Homo sapiens: one gene and its partners. The protein of the gene in region 1 purifies or fractionates together with the protein of each later gene. This does not show direct contact. Each region holds a gene or a part of one and is shown in the gene's direction. Other genes may lie near its edges.

Region 1 (3,500 bases):
GCCTCCCGAGTAGCTGGGATTGCAGGCACGTGCCACCACACCAGGCTGATTTTTGTATTTTTAATGGAGACAGGGTTTCACCATGTTGGCCAGGCTAGTCTCGAACTCCTGACCTCAAGTGATCCACCTGCCTCGGCCTCCCAAAGTGCTGGGACTACAGACGTGAGCCACCTTTTCTTTTTTTTTTTTTTTGAGACAGAGTCTTACTCTGTCTCTCAGGCTGGAGTGCAGTGGTGTGATCTGGGCTCACTGGAACCTCTGCTTCCCGGGTTCAAGCAGTTCTCCTGCCTCAGCCTCCTGAGTAGCTGGGATTACAGGCGCCGCCACCATGGTCGGGTAATTTTTTTTTTTTTTTTTTTTTGAGACGGAGTCTCATACTGTCACTAGGGCTGGAGTGCAGTGGCACAATCTCGGCTCACTGCAACCTCTGACTTCTGGGTTCAAGCGATTCTCCTGCCTCAGCCTCGCAAGTAGCTGGTATTACAGGCACCCGCCACTACGCCCAGCTAACTTTTTGTATTTTTAGTAGAGACGGGGTTTCACCATGTTGACCAGGATGGTCTCAAACTCCTGACCTAGTGATTTGCCCACCTCGGCCTCCCAAAGTGCTGGGATTACAGGCATGAGCCACCGCACCTGGGCAATTTTTGTATTTTTAGTAGAGACGAGGTTTCATCATGTTACCCAGGCTGGTCTCGATCTCCTGAGCTCAAGTGATCCACATGCCTCAGCCTCTCTAAGTGCTGGGATGACAGGCGTGAGCCACCACACCCAGCCTGGGGTGATAGTGTTTTCGATCTGATACCTCTTTCATTTCCTGAAGGCAGTTGGCGTCCCTGCACCCGCCGTCATTCCTCTGATTTTTTCCGTAGCAACAGCATCACCTGGGGGCCTCCTACCTCCTGCGACCTGGGGCTGGGCACTGTCAGGAGCTGGTGCTCACCGAGGATGAGAAGAAGCTGCTGGCTAAAGAAGGCATCACCCTGCCCACTCAGCTGCCCCTCACTAAGGTGAGTCTGGGGGGACTTCCAGCCCTGGATCCATCTCCCCTTCGTGCACTTACCTGCATGTGTGTCCCACCTTTATTTATTTATTTAGAGTAGAGTCTTTCTCTGTCACTGAGGCTGGGATGCAGTGGCACGATCTCAGCTTGCTGCAACCTCTGCCTCTCAGATTCCAGCGATTCTCCCGCCTCAGCCTCCTGAGTAGCTGGGATTACAGCCATGCGCCACCACGCCCAGCTAATTTTTGTATCTTTAGTAGAGACAGGGTTTCACCATGTTGGCCAGGCTGGTCTCGAGCTCCTGACCTCATGTGATCCTCCTGCCTCGGTCTCCCAAAGTGCTGGGATTCCAGGCGTGAGCCACCGCACTGGCTATGTGTCTCACCTTTAGAACACCCGTACTAGAATGCTATGCTGTGTCTGTCACCAGAGCCAAAACAATCAGTCAGAAGCCCCATTGTAAATTCAACTCAGAGGGTAATTATCAACATCCAGGAATGAATGGCGGACTCCAGGTGGCAGCAATTTGGGTGCAGCAAACTTTTTTTTTTTTTTGGAGATAGGGTCTTGCTGTGTCCCGCTGGAGTGCAGTGGTGCCATCATAGCTCACTTCAGCCTTGACCTCCTGGGCTCAAGAGATCCTCCCGCCTCAGCCTCTCAAGTAGCTAGGATGACAGGTGCACGCCACTACACTTGGCTAATTTAATTTTTTTTTTTTTTTTGTAGAAATGGGGTCTTGTTATGTTGCCCAGGCTGGGCTGGGACTCCTGGGTTCAAGTGATTCTCCCACCTTGGCCTCCCAAAGTGTTGGGATTACAGGCATGAGCCATCATGCCTGGCCCTGCAGACATGTTTTGATTGGACTGTACTGCATTTTATACATTTTTGAATTGCTTGATAATGTTTTTCTGACCGGTAGATTTTACAAGAGAACTCAGTGACTTGAGGCTGGGCACGGTGGCTCACACCTGTAATCCCAGCACTGTGGGAGGCTGAGGCAGAGGATCACTTGAGGTCAGGAGTTCGAGACTAGCCTGGCCAACATGGTGAAACCCCGTCTCTACTAAAATTACAAAAATTAGCTGTGCCTGGTGGTGGGCAACTGTAAGGTGCTTCTCAGCCTCCCAGCTTCTCAGGAGGCTGAGGCAGGAGGATCTCCCTTGAACCCGGGAGGTGGAGGTTGCAGTGAGCCGAGATGGTACCACTGCACTCCAGCCTGGGTGACAAGAGCGAAACTCTGTCAAAACAAAAACAAAAACAAAAAAACTAAAAACATAAACAAAACAAAATCCAAAAAACCAACTCAATTACTTGAATGTCCTCTGTTTCATATTCTCAAACCTCCATATGCACCAGTCAATGGCTGGGTAGCTGTTTGGGTTCTCTAGCTAACCACAGTCCCCACCCAGCCTGCTGCACTCAGTATCAATGCCTGAGTTTGATATTCTCATCTGTTTTTTTTTTTTTTCTATTGAGACAGGTTCTGACTCTGTTGCCCAGGCTGGAGTGGAGTGAGGTGATCTTGGCTCACTCCAACTTCCCCCTCTGGAGTACAAGTGATTCTCCCACATCAGCCTCCCTAGCAGCTGGGACTACAGGTGTATGCCATTATGCCTAGCTAATTTTTTTTTTTTTCCTGAGACGGAGTTTCGCTTTTGTTGCCCAGGCTGGAGTGCAGTGGCGCGATCTCGGCTCACTGCAACCTCCGCTTCCCAGGTTCAAGTGATTCTCCTGCCTCAGCCTCCTAAGTAGCTGGGATTACAGGCACGCGCCACCACGCCTGGCTAATTTTTTTTTTTTTTTTTTTTTTTGAGTAGAGACAGAGTTTCACCATGTTGGCCAGGATGGTCTCGATCTCTTGACCTTGTGATCTGCCCAGCTCAGCCTCCCAAAGTGTTGGGATTACAGGTGTGAGCCACTGCGCCCAGCATTTTTTTTTTTCCTTAGAGACAGGGTCTTGCTATGTTGCCCAGGCTGGTCTCAAACTCCTGGCCTCAAGCAGTCCTCTGACCTTGGCCTCCCAAAGTGTTAAGATTACAGGTGTGAGCCACCGTGCCTGGCCCCATCTGTTTCTATTGTTGTTGTTGTTTGTTTTGAGATAGGATCTCACTTTGTCGCTCAGGCTGGAGTGCAGTGGTACAATCTGCAGGTAGCAGCTAACTGCAACCTTGAACTCCTGGTCTCAAGGGATCCTCCTGCCTCAGCCTCCCAAGTAGCTGGGACTATAGGCATGCACCACCACACCCAGCTGATTTTGTGGTTGTTGTTTTGTTTTAGTAGAGACAGGGTCTTTACTAAATGTTGCCCAGTCTAGTCTTGAACTCCTGGACTTATGCGATCCTCTTGCCTTGGCCTCCCAAAGTGCTGGGATTACAGCACTGTGAACCACCGCGCCCAGCCTGACATTCCCATTTGAAGACACTTATTGGCCGGGTGTGGTGTCTCATGCCTGTAATCCCAGCTCTTTGGGAGGCAAAGATGGGCGGATCACCTGAGG
Region 2 (3,500 bases), on another chromosome or scaffold:
TTCACAATTGAGTCATCCATCTCCCCACCTGAATTATGAGATCTTAACACAATAAGGCTTAGTAGTGAAGAGTTAAATAACTTGTCCTATGTCACAGGGCTGGTGCATGGTAGAGCTGAACCCATTTTTTTCTGGGTTTATGAGTCAAAAAATGTGCATTTAAGTTGTTTAACCTCTCTGAAACTTAGTTGTCTTATGAAAGTGGGACAGTGATCTTTTTTGTGAGAAGTGATTTTTGTAAACAGTGGAAGTAGTCATTGCTATAACCATTATCATTATTATTTATGATGTACTAGCCCTAGGGACATAAGAATTGGTAGATGGTAATTTCTGCCATCTAAGGTCTCCCTCATAGGTAGGGAGACAGATGACTCAACTGTGAAATGCACCATAATTGTGCTGAATGCACAGTCACTGTGTAAGCACAGAGAAGGAAGTCCTTAGCTCTGCGTGGGAGGTTATGGAAGGCTGCTTGGAGAAAAGAACTTATTTTCTCATCAGTGTCTTGTTGTGGTCCTTTAAGTAAACTTCTCCTGCCTGAAGGCTTGTAGTTTTGTGAAAATCATGGACCTTGCTTGTACCCTTAAGTGTTTTAATCCTTGTCTTAGGTTTCAGATCTGGATCGTTGCCATTTATACCTGATGGTGTTAACTGAGCTTATAAATCTGCATTTGAAGGTTGGGTGGAAAAGGGGTAACCCTATCTGGAGAGTTATTTCTCTTTTGAAAAATGCATCCATTCAGCATCTTCAAGAGATGGACAGTGGACAGGTAAGCCTCTTTGATTCAAGGTTTGTAGTTATCTTGAATAAGGCATACAGGGAATACATATTCAGTTCTTATACACTATTTTGATACCATACAAAGCGTTAACTAAAATTCAGTTTTAAAATATACCCTCTAGTGATAAGATGTAGTTAAGATTGATACTTTTTGTTTTTTGGAGATGGAGTCTGGCTCTGTCACCCAGGCTGGGGTGCAGTGGTACCATCTTGGCTCACTGCAACCTCCACCTCCTGGGTTCAAGTGATTCTCCTGCCTCAGCCTCCTGAGTAGCTGGGATTACAGGTGTGTGCCACCATGGCTGGCTAATTTTTCTATTTTTTAGTGGAGACGGGTTTTACCATGTTAACCAGGCTAGTCTCGAACTCCTGACCTCGTGATCCGCCTGCCTTGGCCTCCCAAAGTGCTGGGATTACAGGTGATACTCTTAATATAATATTAAACATATAAGAGGCATCATCTTAAAATCATTTAGATATAGACATTTCACCTGTACTAGGTCTTTTGCCCAAACGTGTCCAGTAAAGGACATTTTATAGTCTGACATCATTGCCCTCCATGCTTGGCTTCCTACCTCATTTTTCAGCCTAGCTGTCCACTGTCTAATGCCTTTCCCCCTCCTTCCCACAGTGCCGTGACGTTGCAGCCACTCTAGGCTACTTAGAGTTTTACAAATCACAAGCATGTGTCCTATCTTCCTCATGGAGGCTGTCATTCAGTCTGGTCCCTCCGTGGAGAATGAGTGCCCTCTCCTCCAGCATACACTTGGCAGCATCTGGTCTCCCCTTTTATGGACCAACTGGAATCTCTTTTCTCTTAGAGGTCTTCTTCGATTAGTATCTCACTCTCTTTCATCTTCCTGTTGCTCTTTATGCCTCACTTGTAGTGTGTATTTCCATCTTTCTTGTTTTTGGAGTAATGTATGCATATATATCTTTTCCTATATATATATATTTTTGAACAGAGTCTCGCTCTGTCACCCAGACCGAGTGCAGTGGCGTGATCTTGGCTCACTGCAGTCTCAGCCTCCTGGGTTCAAGCAGTTCTCCTATCTCAACCTCCCGAGTAGCTGGGACTACAGGCGTGTGCCACCATGCCCGGCTAATTTTTGTATTTTTAGTAGAGTTGGGGTTTTGCCATGTTGGCCAGGGTGGTCTCGAACTCTTGACTTCAAGCAATTTGCCTGCCTCAGCCTCCTGAAGTTCTGGGATTGTAGGTGTGAGCCACCGTGCCTGGCCTCAAGGCTTTTTTTTTTTTTTTTTGGAGACGGAGTTTCGCTCTTTTGCCAAGTCTGGAATGCAGTTGTGCAGTTGGCTCACTGCAACCTTGGCCCCCCAGGTTCAAGCGATTCTCCTGCCTCAGCCTCCTGAGTAGCTGGGATTGTAGGTGCCCGCCACCATGCCTGGCTAATTTTTGTGTGTTTAGTAGAGATGGAGTTTCACCATGTTGGCCAGGCTGGTTTCGAACTCCTGACCTAGGTGATCCACCCACCTCGGCCTCCCAAAGTGCTGGGATTACAGGCGTGAGCCACCACGCCTGGCCAAGGCATTTCTTAAACATGGCACAATAAGGCTTAGTAATGAAGAGCACAGGCTTTGGAGTTAGAGTTGCTGGGTTTGAATTCTGGCTTTATTTTTGCTGTGTGACCTACATTATTTAACCCCTCTGTGTCTCATTTACTGCACCTGCAAAATGGGGATTATAGAGTTGATGTGGGAATTAAAGAAAGCTCATTCATGTTAAGTCTTTAGAACTGTACCTGGCAGATAGACAGTCCTCAATAAAAGTTAGCCATTTTCACTTAACATGTGGTAAGTGTTTAATAAGTTGAACTCAATCAGTGTAACTAATCCAGGCTACTAAGAAAAACAAAGAAGATACTCGATTGCTTTAATAATTTAATTCTAGGAGGAAATGATAAAGACGATGATTAATATTTCAGCATCCTGTCTAGTACCTATTAGTCTGTTAGTGTTATGAAAGAACATTGTGAGTTCTAAATATACAACCAAACCATGAACCATGCCACAGTAACTCTTATTCTTAAAAATCGGCTTCCTTTAGTAATTCACTGAATTACATTAAGGTTAGCAGGGACGATAGTTGGCTCAAAGGTAACACTAAATTCTATTTCATATGTTGGCAGTGTTGATATGTAAAATTTTTCTGTAGAGATGGTTGATTTATTTTTGGAGAGTGAAAGAGGGGTATGGAATAAGTAGAAATTTCCTTTCTGATACAGACATTACTGGTTGGCAGTATTTGAGGGAACTGCTGTAATCTCTCAGTGCTGTTGTTTTCTGTGTCTGACTTCTTGCCTGCACTCCTAGCTTGGTGAGAGATTGTCGATTTTCTCTTTAAGTATAGACCAGGTTGTCTTGGCTACCCTCCTTTCCTACGTGTAGAGTTCCAAGTGTTTTACATGCAGTAACCCATTTGCTTAATCTTCACAATAACCCCGTGAAGTAGATTCTGTTACTGTCCCCATTTTACAGATGAGAAAACTAAGGTGTAGTATGTCTACACTCATACTGGTAGTAGCACAGAGCTAGGATTCAGACCTGGGCTTTGTGGTTCCTGAGTCCAGCTCTTAACTGCTGGACTACGTGACTTCTCCAAAAGTAGCGTGCAGCTGATAGAAGGAATTATTTGTAACCTGGAGCCTTTTATTTTTTTTTTTAACATGTTTCAGCAGACAGTTAAAATAAGGCTCACCCA
Region 3 (3,500 bases), on another chromosome or scaffold:
TTTTCTGTATCTGTGTGCTGCCCACCTTGGCCATTAGCGGTTGGAGCTGCCCCTCTTTGTTGTCACTGTCATTTTTTAAACATAGTATATGTATTCTTTTTCTTTTTTTAGTGACAGGGTTTCACTATGTTGCCCACACTGGCCATGAACTCTTGAGCTCAGGTGATCTTCCTACCTCAGCCTCCCAAGTAGCTGGGACTACAGGCACATGCCACTGTGCCCAGCTTGTCACTGCCAATTTTAATCTTGGCATGTTTGTCCCATTGCTGTATTGCCATGTGAAAAATTTTGCCAACAGCCAGGAGACCTCTGTTTCCTCTGTAAAGTTGAATCTTTCTTCCTTGTAATGACTTAATAGTGATTTCTATCAAGTGGAGAAGAAATCTTAAAACCGTACATACTGTTTTGGGCTCTCTGGTAGGTTTTAGGAGGGGAGCTCCCCAGGAGGTAAATGGGAATGCCATCCAGCTTTGGCAAATTCTTATTGAAACTAATGAGTTTAATAGACTGACCTTATTACTCCTATTTACAACCTCATTACAAAATTATCTGCTCAATGTTTGCTAAATTCTTTATCGGTCTTGAGAAGCTAAGCCTCCTGTTTAGTTCCTGCTGCAGCCGTGACAATTGTCTCCCTTTCATATGAAAAGAGTAGCCTCAAAGGCCCCTGAGTAAGAATAAGTAGTGGCTGTGGCAGTCTGTGGACATCAGGAATAATCTAGGGAACTTTGGCTTAAAGCATGTCAAGCTAAGAAGTGGTCTCCTATACCACGTGAATAAAAGAAAAAAATAAGACTTATTTGCTTATCTAGCACACTTCTTGATCTTACAAGGAATTGCCTAGTAGGGTGATATTTTACTCCCATTAACCTCACTCTTAGAACCTGGAAAGGATAATGTACATTAGGTAACACCTTGGGAGGAAGAGTAGGAGGGAAAAATCTTTGTGCCAAAGTCTGGTACTGGAATTTTACACCAGAGTCACCACTGATTTGCTTAGTGAGCCTTCCACTCAAATTTGGTTCTCCCTGTCATTTTTGCCCAGAGATATTCTGAAGACAGAAGGAAACAAAAGATCTCTCTTTGAGATCTTAGGGTGGCAGGAACCCTGTGTGCCCAGGAATGTTATTTGTACTATCTCCGTGCTCATTGTTGGGCCCTCAGGCAAATCTAACAGCCTGGCAACTCTTTAGAGCTGGAGCAAGGGCATACCCTCCTTTGAGAAGGATACCGGGTTTTCAGACTTTTTCATAGGTAGACCTATGAATGTCCAGATTGCTGGTGAAAGGAGTAGCAACTGATTTAGCATTGTAGCTTGTGATTAGTCAGGGCCCTGGATCCCTGGGCTGCCCAAGAGGAACTTTAGGGCTCTGCTTAGGGAGCTGCCCACATTCCTGGTACCACCTGTTTCTGTATTAAGTAGTACAGGTTGAAGGCATGAAAGCAACTGAGTGAAGAGAATCCATACCTTTGGAAGTGCAGTTCTTTAGCATGTGGGCACTCTGTTGCAGAGTGCATCTCTCTCCTCTGCATGGGAGAATAGATGAGAGGCCCTAGAACGGTCTTGAGCCATTTAGAAGGCCTTTCCCCTCAGATTTGCTGCTCTTGGAAGATTTCTCTGGAAAGGAACCAACCTCTTCCCAAGGCTTGGAGTGTTAATCTATTTATTTATAGCTTTTTTTACCCTAATTTTCTTTTTCTTTTTTTTTTTGAGACAGAGTTTAGCTCTTGTTGCCCAGGCTGGAGTGCAATGGCTCGATCTCGGCTCACCGCAATCTCCACCTCCTGGGTTCAAGTGAATCTCCTACCTCAGCCTCCCGAGTAGCTGAGATTATAGGCATGTGCCACCACGCCTGGCTAATTTTGTATTTTTAGTAGAGACAGGGTTTCTCCATTTGGGTCAGGCTGGTCTTGAACTCCTGACCTCAGGTGATCCGCCCGCCTCGCCTCCCAAATGTTGGGATTACAGGTGTGAGCTACCGTGCCTGGACCTTGATTTTCAAACTAATACATTCTTGTGTCTCACAAATGCAGAAAATGCAGGAAAATGCAAAACAAAAGAAATATCAGTTCACCTCTCAGTTTCCATGGTTACTCATTCTTAGTGGTCTGGGTTTTCTGAGTGGCACTCTCTGGCACTCTGTGACGTTTGCCAGATTGGTTCATGTAAGCAAGTCAACTCGATTAAGAGAATTGGACAGCCACCATAAAGGGAAGGGCAGATTTTGTGCCTCTCATACAGGGACATTCTCAACCAAAATTTATCCTTGCTAACTTATTAGAAGCCAGAATTTTGGTTTTAAGTTTATTCTTTCACACATGTTCACCTGTCTTTTCTTTCTTTTGTAAAATGTTGTATCCTTGAAAATGCATATTAACCTTATCTATTAGATTTTTAAGCTCTCTAAGGGTTGTTACTTTTGCACAGTACCCCATTATATGTAGCATGATCTTTTATAGAATAGGTGCTGAACCAGTATAGTAGTCTGATCTTTTAAACGGTATCAGTGTTCTGAACTATGACAGATGTCCTAATTCAACCTACTGGTGGGGAAGCTAAATCATAGCCCAGGAGGGCTCCGTTCTCTGTTAAGATATAGAGATCCCATTCTCATCCTTAAACTTCTGAGGCCTGAACAGCTTGCACTATTTGTAAGAGGAAATGTCTCAAGGAGTCATATACTCTGTAGGTCCTTAGGAAAGTGATACTTGGCTGACACATCTTTACATTTACTACAGTAATCATTTAATTAATTTCTATTAAATGGAAAGCCTCAGTCCAGGTGTTGGGTACAGACTGTGACATAGTTCCTGCTCTCCAGGAGTGACCCTGTCCAATGGGGACAGCAAGTGGCAAACAATAACTGGCTCTAAGGCAATGTGATGAGTGCTGTGCCAATGACACTGGTGTTACTGGAGCACAGTGGAAGGGATAATCAGTTAGGCCTGGAGTGCTGGGGAAAGCTTTGTTCTTCTTGAATGTCAACCCTTAGCAGGTTTTGGTTCTGGTAGGGAAATGGATGGATCACTTAAGATTGGCTTCAGAATTATAATGTATTCTTCAAGTTAGAAATACCTGAATAGTGACCACCTCGGGTCTATTAAAAAATGTTTTACACACTGCCGTCTGTGACTTTCCTTCAGTACTTCTCACAAGCAGCCAAGTTTTGAATCAACACCCTTTCTGAGTGGTGTCCCTTCTTCTTCAAAGGAATTATGCCACATTGCTAAGTCAATATTTTCATATTTATTTTAAATTTTAATAGATAATATATTCACATGGTTCATAAGTCAAAAAATATAAAAAGATAGCCAGTGTAAACTTTCGTGGTATAAAAATGTAAATCAAGTTTCACTTTTGCTTTCACTAGTTCCAAGTAATTGTTTTGGTATTCTGTCTCCAAATGCTAACCCCTGAATGTGTGAATAATCACTTTTATTGGTCTTCTTGTATATCGTTCCTTCCAAAAGCTCTTTTTGCAATTATAAGAAATAAAAAT
Region 4 (3,500 bases), on another chromosome or scaffold:
ACATCTTCCCTGTACACTGGCAGTTCGGCCAGCTGGACCAGCACCCCATTGACGGGTAAGACCCCAGACCCTAGAGTGAACAGAGCTCAAGGCTGGCAGGTGCACTAGCTATGGCCAGAAAGCCTCTCAGCAGCCTATACTGCTCCAAGCCCTGGCATCCACAGTTTGCCTGGGGATTGGAGCAGAAGGATGAGGCATCTGGAGAAAAGATGTGGACCTGGGACAAAGAAACCGATAAGACACTCTCATGCTGAGGTGAAAGTCAGTAGGAGCTCAAAATAGCTCCATAATCCTGCAAGTACTAGGCGTGGATATCTGGATAATGAAGGAGTGTGAATTAAGAAGGAGTACCAGGCTCCAAGGGGTGGCAGGGGACAAGGTTGGGTCAGCCACACGCCCCCTGTCCTTCAGCAGAACATCCAGGGGCAGAGCAGCCACCTGGCACTGTCTAAGCCCCCTCCTAAGGCTCAGCCCCAATAGGGCCCAACTGACCCTGGAAGTTATCCAAAAAAGCCTGTCTATTTTGCAAGCCCCCAGTTTGAGGGCTCTTGTCCCTTGTCCAAACGAGTTATGAGGCCCTGTGCAACTGCACTGCCGAACAGGCAGGCAGCTGGCCAGTTAGCAAATGCTTATGGAGTGTGCATTTTGTGCCCTGCACTATTCTAGGCAGGGGATTGAACAGCAGTCAGAGCTGGCATGGTCCTTGCCCTCATGGACTTATACTCTGTTCATAACCTGTCACTACCTTCTGAACTTCTCTTGTGGTGATGAAGTGAGAGCCCCTGCTCAGCCTCAGATGGAGCAAGCTACACCTGCACCTTCCCAGAGTGGTTTTTTCTTCGTCCTTGGGTTGTGGAAGCAGAGCATCACACAGAGGGGAAAGGAAGGGCTGCCCTACTCACATACTCAGGGAACTTCCTCTCTAGGATGTTCACCCCTCGCTCTTTGTCCAGCCTGTGTGCCTGGAGTCTGCCAACCCTGCCAGTGATCCTGAGGGCTGGGGTCTCCTGGGCTCTGGGAATCTCCCGGCCACTTCTCTCCCAGGCTTTTGCCATGGCTGGGATCCAACTGAGTCACTCATTATGGCAGGGAGGGGAAAAGTCAAAGGGGAACATCTGGAGCTCAGGCAAAGCAATTTGATCCCACTGCAACAGAGGGCCTGGAGGGAGGCTTTCAGATGGGGTGCAAGAACAGCACATCTGGGAAAGGGGTCCAGCTTGGGCAAGGGGACCCGCTTCCTCCTCCTCCCATCCCAGGGCTGTAGGTGACCTTGCCTGCATCCCTGCCCCTCCCTGGGCCTCAGTTTTCCACCAGTACAATGAAGGGGAGGAGAATGTTCCTATCAGTTCAAACATTGTGTGATTTCTTTGGTGAGCTGGGTGGGGCTGCGAGGTCTAGAGGTTAAGAAGACAACTGGAGTCACATTGTTCCCTGGAGATCCTTTGTGGATCTTTAGGGACAAGTAGTTGGGGGCTCTGGGAAACAAAGAAAAAAATTATACACATGCTCTGGAGTCTAAGGCCAGCAGGGAGAATAGGGAGGGAGGACAGTGGGAGAGACATCCAAAGGGCCTCCCTCTCAGACATTACAGGATACACAAGCAAAGCTCTATGAAGATGGTTAGAGCTCCCGTTGACCCTCACTGCCAATCCCAGTCCCTTTCCACATTCCTCCCCAGAAGGCAGCACTGTCACCAGATTGGTGTGTCATTTTTAGACCCTTTACTAGGCATTTATAGATGTATAAATGTGTGTCCATAGACAATATACAGTGCTGTGTCATGCTAGATTTTGATCTACCCATAGCAGAAGTGCTGAATTTTGATTTTAAGTTTCTGTGTCCCCAGTTCTCAGCCAATTAGGAAACAATCAAATACACCAAACAGACCTTTGTTTTTGAGACCCTGAAACCTTAGAGCTGGAAGGGCCGTTAGTAATTATGGCCATCTCCTCCTCTTTGCTGGAAGGAGAAACTGAGGTTCCGAATGGTGCACTGCTGTTCTCTGAGTCTCAGAGCAGTCAGTGGCAGAGCTAGGGGTAGACCTGGGATTCTGGCTTTTTGTCCTGCTTTAAATATCCTTTCCTCCATGCTCTGGGGCAGGCTAACTCCCCGGTTGCCTCCCAAGGCTGGGTGTGGAGCTTTTCCATGCCTCAGGCCCTCCCCTGCCTCCTTCCCTGCAGGTACCTCTCCCACACCGAGCTGGCTCCACTGCGTGCTCCCCTCATCCCCATGGAGCATTGCACCACCCGCTTTTTCGAGACCTGTGACCTGGACAATGACAAGTACATCGCCCTGGATGAGTGGGCCGGCTGCTTCGGCATCAAGCAGAGTGAGTGTCTGAACAAAGAAGCAAGGGGCATGGGCAGAAACACTGCTCCCAGGGTGCTGGGTTGTCATCCCCCCACTCTCCGCTCTCTTGGTCTGTCTGTTGTCTGTCCTCTCTGCCTGTCTCTGCTCTCTCTGCCTATTTGACTCCTGTCTCTTGGGCGTCTTCCTGATCCTTCTCTGTCCATCCAACTGTCCCTCTCTCTTTCCCTTCCTCAAGCGTTAGCACTCACCCGTGCTAAACACTATTTTGGGAACTGGCAGGCACACAGAGAGGAAACAGGAAGTGTAACTTGGCAGCGTGTGTAAGAGACAGGGACAGGCCAGAGACAGAGAGAGCGAGATTCCTCCGTCACTGACTTCCTGGGTGACCTTGCATGGCCACCTAGACCCCTGCCCCTGGGGATGGGTGGGAGTCCACTGACTCCTTGGGAAGTGCGTTATCATCGACACAGCCTTATTTTTAACCGTGCTCTTTTCTTGCTTTGCAGAGGATATCGACAAGGATCTTGTGATCTAAATCCACTCCTTCCACAGTACCGGATTCTCTCTTTAACCCTCCCCTTCGTGTTTCCCCCAATGTTTAAAATGTTTGGATGGTTTGTTGTTCTGCCTGGAGACAAGGTGCTAACATAGATTTAAGTGAATACATTAACGGTGCTAAAAATGAAAATTCTAACCCAAGACATGACATTCTTAGCTGTAACTTAACTATTAAGGCCTTTTCCACACGCATTAATAGTCCCATTTTTCTCTTGCCATTTGTAGCTTTGCCCATTGTCTTATTGGCACATGGGTGGACACGGATCTGCTGGGCTCTGCCTTAAACACACATTGCAGCTTCAACTTTTCTCTTTAGTGTTCTGTTTGAAACTAATACTTACCGAGTCAGACTTTGTGTTCATTTCATTTCAGGGTCTTGGCTGCCTGTGGGCTTCCCCAGGTGGCCTGGAGGTGGGCAAAGGGAAGTAACAGACACACGATGTTGTCAAGGATGGTTTTGGGACTAGAGGCTCAGTGGTGGGAGAGATCCCTGCAGAACCCACCAACCAGAACGTGGTTTGCCTGAGGCTGTAACTGAGAGAAAGATTCTGGGGCTGTGTTATGAAAATATAGACATTCTCACATAAGCCCAGTTCATCACCATTTCCTCCTTTACCTTTCAGTGCAGTTTC

The links. Proteins that work in one complex are often made in the same cells at the same time.
Region 2: the proteins of CREB3L3 (region 1) and TARBP1 purify together in Homo sapiens (affinity purification with mass spectrometry; one large-scale study listed by BioGRID and IntAct). This does not show direct contact.
Region 3: the proteins of CREB3L3 (region 1) and CMTR1 purify together in Homo sapiens (affinity purification with mass spectrometry; one large-scale study listed by BioGRID and IntAct). This does not show direct contact.
Region 4: the proteins of CREB3L3 (region 1) and SPARC purify together in Homo sapiens (affinity purification with mass spectrometry; one large-scale study listed by BioGRID and IntAct). This does not show direct contact.

The regions. Positions count from the first base shown.
Region 1 is NC_000019.10:4,163,631-4,167,130, forward strand, and holds part of CREB3L3 (cyclic AMP-responsive element-binding protein 3-like protein 3), read left to right. Parts: intron 1-872; coding exon 873-1,010; intron 1,011-3,500. UniProt on the Homo sapiens protein: Transcription factor that may act during endoplasmic reticulum stress by activating unfolded protein response target genes. Activated in response to cAMP stimulation. In vitro, binds to the cAMP response element (CRE) and box-B element.
Region 2 is NC_000001.11:234,430,680-234,434,179, reverse strand, and holds part of TARBP1 (tRNA (guanosine(18)-2'-O)-methyltransferase TARBP1), read left to right. Parts: intron 1-608; coding exon 609-770; intron 771-3,500.
Region 3 is NC_000006.12:37,439,721-37,443,220, forward strand, and holds part of CMTR1 (cap-specific mRNA (nucleoside-2'-O-)-methyltransferase 1), read left to right. Parts: intron 1-3,500. UniProt on the Homo sapiens protein: S-adenosyl-L-methionine-dependent methyltransferase that mediates mRNA cap1 2'-O-ribose methylation to the 5'-cap structure of mRNAs.
Region 4 is NC_000005.10:151,662,916-151,666,415, reverse strand, and holds part of SPARC (SPARC isoform 1 precursor), read left to right. Parts: coding exon 1-55; intron 56-2,180; coding exon 2,181-2,329; intron 2,330-2,816; coding exon 2,817-2,845; coding exon of another isoform or gene 2,846-2,961; 3' UTR 2,962-3,500.